Regions from separate parts of the Homo sapiens genome. Here region 2 is linked to region 1. The links come from fine-mapping of genetic effects on gene expression. A gene starts in region 1. The other region holds a variant in brackets. All regions are shown on one strand. Distances are between the middles of the regions. Region 1 holds the start of UCMA (upper zone of growth plate and cartilage matrix associated). Region 2 has its middle 33 kb from the start of PHYH.

Evidence for each region. PIP is the estimated chance that this variant, and not a neighbour inherited with it, causes the effect.
Region 2: its variant is the best candidate, but not a certain one, in a credible set for the expression of UCMA in uterus (GTEx, PIP 0.71).

What each region holds. Positions count from the first base shown.
Region 1 is chr10:13,233,254-13,236,160 of GRCh38, forward strand. It overlaps UCMA (upper zone of growth plate and cartilage matrix associated), which reads right to left and starts at 1,121. Exons shown (of 5, transcript NM_145314.3): 1 at 948-1,121; 2 at 482-547; 3 at 285-380. The coding sequence starts at 1,005. RefSeq lists an enhancer at 824-1,734.
Region 2 is chr10:13,265,970-13,268,876 of GRCh38, forward strand. No RefSeq gene overlaps it. Among named protein-coding and RNA genes, the nearest start is that of PHYH, 33 kb to the right of the region's middle. The variant T/C (reference allele first, on the strand shown) is at 1,361.

The sequences.
Region 1 (2,907 bases):
GTAGCATCATGGCCAAGAAGCAGGACAAGAGGACCTGTCTCCAAGTCATCTTTGCAGAGGTGGGGCCTCCTAACCCTGACAAAGTATTCAATCCAATATACGACCTACAGTCAGGAAATAGGGTGTAATTTCTCATTCAGAGCTGCAGTCCCTTTGATACCCTGGGGTGAGCCCTTCGTGCCCAGCTGCATCCTGCTGCCCGGCTGACTGTGGGAGAGGAGGAGCCGGGGGGTGTGAGCAGAGGTGGTGATGGACGCGGGATGGGGTCCCTCCAGCATCCTTACCATTGACCTCATCTCTGGACTTGGGGGACCGCTTGCCGCGCCTCTTGAGGAAATTCGAGGCATCTGATTCCTGCATGAAAATCTTCTGTTTTGCATCTGAAACCCGGGAGAGGCCTGTCACCAGCAGTGTGGGGGTGCTGGGGCTGCTGCTTCGCTGGCTGCACCTGCCCTGCCCCGTGGGTGGCCCCTGCACTCACCTTCACTCGCCTCTTCTCCCGCCATCTGCATGGTGCCCACAGATACACTGGTTCCCTCTCTCAGCACTGCAGGACAAGGGCACAGAGTGAGGCTGCAGCATCAGAGGGGAGCCCAGACCCTGAGCTGAGTCCCCATCTCTCTTTCCAGGCTAAGCGTCCTGCCAGGGCCTGGCAGGGGGCCCGTGGTTTCTCACGTACCAGCTGCAGAGCCAATCTCCCCAGGAACCCACCAAGCAAGCTGGCTTGGGTTTTTTTTCTATTTTGTTTCTTTCTTTACTGTTTTTTATTATTATTATTATTTTTCTGTATTGCATTGTGTCCTACATGCACACGACACACACATACACACATGTTAACAATAAGCATACTCCTTTCTACCTGCATCACCTGAGCAGCCTTACCTGTGCATGGTAAGTCTCCCTTACCATGTAACTAACACCCTCCACCTTGACCCTCCTGTACTCACTAGACAGGAGCACCACGGCGGAGAAGCAAGACAGCAGGACGGCCTGTCTCCAAGTCATCTTTGCAGAGGTAGGGGCTCCGTCCAGGACCCACAAGGCAGACCAGGCGTCCTGCACCCTTTGGGTCCCCACTTCTGAGGCAGGCAGCCCAGGCGAGAGGAAGGAAGGCGGGGGAGGGAAGAGAGAGGCAGGAGGCTGGGATACCACTGGGGGAGAGGAGGAGGGGGCTGGGCTGCCCTTTCCATTGGCTGCTCCTAGATGGAGCAACGGAGATGTTTTTGGCACCTGGCAAATGTCTCCAGAAGCAGAGCTTGTAGTTAGGGCCCTGGGTGGGACGGTCTTGGAGTGGCCTTTCCAATGTCCGTGTCTGGGGATCTGCTGCTGGGAAGGCTCATCCTAACAGTCAGGGTTCCAGTGACCAAGGCCTGTGTCAAGGAGGTCCTGGCACCTGCTCCAGGGACGTTAGGGCCCCGGTCCTCAGGGTTGAAGCATGGGTGGGGGCAAGGAGGAAGAGAGGATCAATGGGGGAGTTTTGATCTAAATGTCAGTCAAGAAGGGCTCATAATGACTGGAATACCCATCAGGGTGACACACAGACGTGTGGGTCATGCTGACAGCGACCAGAGAACACCTTACCTGATGCACTGCTTCCAGCTGATGCTCACTGCCAAGCCAAACACAAACTCCTGGGGCCGCGGGTCCCAGAGCCCTTTAAAGTCAATTGCCTTCCCGCGGTGGCTCATGCCTGGAACCCCTGCACTTTGGGAGGCCGAGGCAGGCAGATCACCTGAGGTTAGGAGTTCGAGACCAGCCTGGCCAACACGGTGAAACCCTGTCTCTATTAAAAATAAAAATAAACAAATTAGCCGGGCATGGTGGCGGGCGTCTGTAATCCCAGCTACTCAGGAGGCTGAGGCAGGAGAATCACTTGAACCCGGGAGGCAGAGGTTGCAGTGAGCCGAGACCGCGCCACTATACTCCAGCTGGGGTGACAGAGCAAGACTCAGTCCCAAAAAAAAAATACATATAAAATAAAATAAAATAAAAATTTAAAAGTTAAAAACAGCGGCCGGGCACGGTGGCTCACGCTTGTAATCCCAGCACTTTGGGAGGCAGAGGTGGGCGGATCATGAGGTCAGGAGATCGAGACCACGGTGAAATCTCGTCTCTACTAAAAATACAAAAAAAATTAGCCGGGCGTGGTGGCGGGCACCTGTAGTCCCAGCTACTCAGAGAGGCTGAGGCAGGAGAATGGCGTGAACCCGGGAGGCAGATCTTGCAGTGAGCCGAGATTGCACCACTGCACTACAGCCTGGGTAACAGAGCGAGACTCCATCTCAAAAAAAAAAAAAAAAAAAAAATTTAAAAACAGCAAGGCCAAATTCAATCACCTTCCACAGCGGAGGGGGAGAAGGGCAGGTATCTGAAAAGCTCCACAGCTAATCCTGCATCTCTAGGAAGACACACATCATACTCCATGTAGGGGAGGAAATGGGTTCCCAGAAATGGGACCACTAATGAAATCAGCACCAACATGGCCATTAGAGCTCAGTCCCCTTGGAGATGTGTTCCTAATGTTGCCTTTGTTAGGAACCATCAACTCTTTGCTGTCAGCCTTCTGGCATCGTTTAATGTTTGTCTAATGGGAACCATCACTAGACCTAGAACCCAGCCCATACCTACCTGAAGCTCCCCTCTTACAAGACTTTTATGTTAGCTAGGCAAAGTGGCTCAAGCCTGAAATCCCAGCCCTTTGGGAGGCCGAGGCAGGAGGCTCACTTGAGGCCAGGGGTTGGAGATAAGCCTGGGCAACATAGCGAGACCCCCATGTCTATTTAAAAAAAGAAAGACTTTCAGTCGGGCGCAGTGGCTCATGCCTGTAATCTCAGCACTTTGGGAGGCTGAGGTAGGTGGATCAGTTGAGGCCAGGAGTTCTAGACCAGCTTGGCCAATATGGCAAAA
Region 2 (2,907 bases), 33 kb after region 1:
GACCTTTTTTCCTTGGGCTTAGAGTTCCCGTCATCCTTTTAAAAATCTTATGCTCTTTAAAAAAAAAAATTGTGGTTAAATACACATAACATAAAATTTGGCATCTTAGCCACTTTTAGGTGTACAGTTGAGTGGCATCAAGCACAGTCACTGTTGTGCGATCATCGCCACCATCCATCTCCAGAACACTTTCCACCCTCTGAACCTCTTTCCCCATTAAACAACAACTCCCCACTCTTTCTCCGTCCCGCGCCTGAGAACCACCATCCTACCTTCTGTCTCTGTGAATTTGACTACTCTAGGGATGTCCGTTCCACGTAAGTGGAATCAGACCGTAATTACCCTTTTGCATCTGGCTTATTTCACTTAGCATAATGTCCTCAAGGATCTTCATGTTTCAGCATGGATCAAAATTTCCTTTTTTTTTTTTTTGAGACAGAGTCTCACCCTGTCACCCAGCCTGGAGTGCAGTGGCGCTATTTCGGCTCACTGCAACCTCCGTCTCCCAGGTTCAAGCGATTCTCCTACCTCAGCCTCCTGAGTGCTGGGATTATAGGCACGTGCCACTACGCCCAGCTAATTTTTGTATTTTTAGTAGAGACAGGGGATTTCACCATGTTTGCCAGCCTGGTCTCGAACTCCTGACCTCAGGCAATCCTCCTGCCTCAGACTCCCAAAGTGCTGGGATTACAGGCGTGAGCTACCTGCTCTGCTTTTTAAGGAACTGAGGCTAAGATAGACATTTCCTGTCGCATGTCTGCTGAAGTTCTACCAGGGAAGATAAACCACAGCTTGTGAATTTCTTTGCAATTGTAAGCAAAAAGCATCATCAAGTGATCTGCCTGTGGTATGATAGAAACACCTGCTCCAGAAATTAGAACTCCTGGATCTACAAACTTCATCTCTTACTCAAAGCAACTAAATTATTCTTCAAAGAATAGGTAACCAGGCCAGGCACGGTGGCTCATGCCTGTAATCCCAGCACTTTGGGAGGCCAAGGCAGGTGGATCACTTGAGGTCAGGAGTTCAAAACCAACCTGGCCAACATGGTGAAACCCTGTCTCAACTAAAAATACAAAAAATTAGCTAGACATAGTGACTGGTGCCTGTAATCCCAGCTACTCGGGAGTCTGAGGCAGGAGAATTGCTTGAACCCAGGAGGTGCAGGTTGCAGTAAGCTGAGATCACTCCACTGCACTTTAGCCTGACCGATAGAGTGAGACTCGGCCTCAAAAAAAAAAAAAAAAAAAAAGAATGTATAACCAAAAATGGAGCAAAACATACTTACCCTGCCTCACATTTGTGAAGATTAACAAGCATTACAACACTTTACAGCACTTACGGAATGCTTGCTCTACCA[T/C]ATGATCTCTTTCGATGTTCTGCCAACGAGCTAGATGTTTTCACTTTTGATTGAAGATAAACCTTGTTTTCCTTGTTTTGTTGCGATCATGGCTCACTGCAACCCCTACCTCCTGGGTTCCGGCAATTCTCGTGCCTCAGCCTCCCAAGTAGCTGGGATTACAGATGCGTGCCACCACGCCCGGCTAATTTTTTGTATTTTTAGTAGAGACAGGGTATCACCACGTTGGCCAGGCTGGTCTTGAACTCCTGGCCTCAACTAATCTGCCCACCTCAGCCTCCCAAAGTGCTAGGATTACAGGCGTAAGCCACTGTGCCCAGCTAAGCCTTGTTACTTCCATTTTTCAAATGAGCACTCTGAGACCCAGAGAAGTCAAGTAATTTACCCAAGAGCGCACAGCTGGTTAGTACGAGAGTCAGAAATTAAGCGCAGGTTTGTCTGACCTCAAACTCAGCATTGCTCCACTGTATTGTTCAGCCTGTCTGATTAGGTAATACAGGGAGGGATGTTCAGCTCCATAAAGCATAGTAAGATGTACCCTGGGAGCTGAAGACACAGCTAACTACATTTTTCCTAAGAAAGCCTGTGTTCTTTGAGGCCTTTTGTTCTGGAGGTAAAGCACAAAAATCAGTGACTCAGGGGGACAAAAATTGGGCTTTTTAATTTCTGTTCTGTCGGCCCGCAATTCCCTGAACACCCTTTTTCCACTAGAGAGATCTCCAAACTCCATCTTTGCCATAATTGTTTAGATAGAGTTGGGGATGAGAGGGGCTGGCAGGAGGGATTACCCTTGCCGTGATGTTTCAAGTTGTCTCAAGCCCATGACAAAGGCTGGCTCTCTCTTATAAGAGGTATAGATTGTATCAAGGAATAGCAACTTTACCGAGAAAAAGGGATTAGAATGTTGGAACAACGAAGGCATATTAATAAAACTGTAATCATGCTTGGATAGGCATTACCAACCATAGAAGAAGTAAGTCTGAAAATCCCAAACCTTCATCGGCTGCTCAAAAGTTCCAAAGTGTCATTGCAGCACTACTGACAAGAGCAAAGATGTAGAACCAATCCAGGAGTTCATCAGCGGTGGATTGGATAAAGAAAATGTGGTATATATAGACCGTGGAATACTATACAGCCACGAAAAAAGAACTAACTCATGTTCTTTGCAGCAACTTGGATGCAGCTGGAGGCCATTATCCTAAAGGAATTAACCCAAGAACAGAAAAACAAACACCCCCCACATGTTTTCACTTATAAATAGGAGCTAAGTATTGGGCACACATGGGCATAAAGATGTGAACACTAGACACTGGGGACTCCTAGAGTGGAGAGGGAGGAAGAGAAGCAAGGGCTCCAAAACTACCTCCTGGGTACTATGCTCAGTACCTGGGTGATGGGATTGCAGCAGCATAATTAAGGAATCACAGAGACCGAGGTGTTGAGGAGGAATTATTTAATTATTTAGGTGCACCGACCCAGTTGGATTAACATCCAAAGGACTGAGCCCTGAACAAAGAGTCAAGTTACCTTTTAAGCATTTTGTGGGG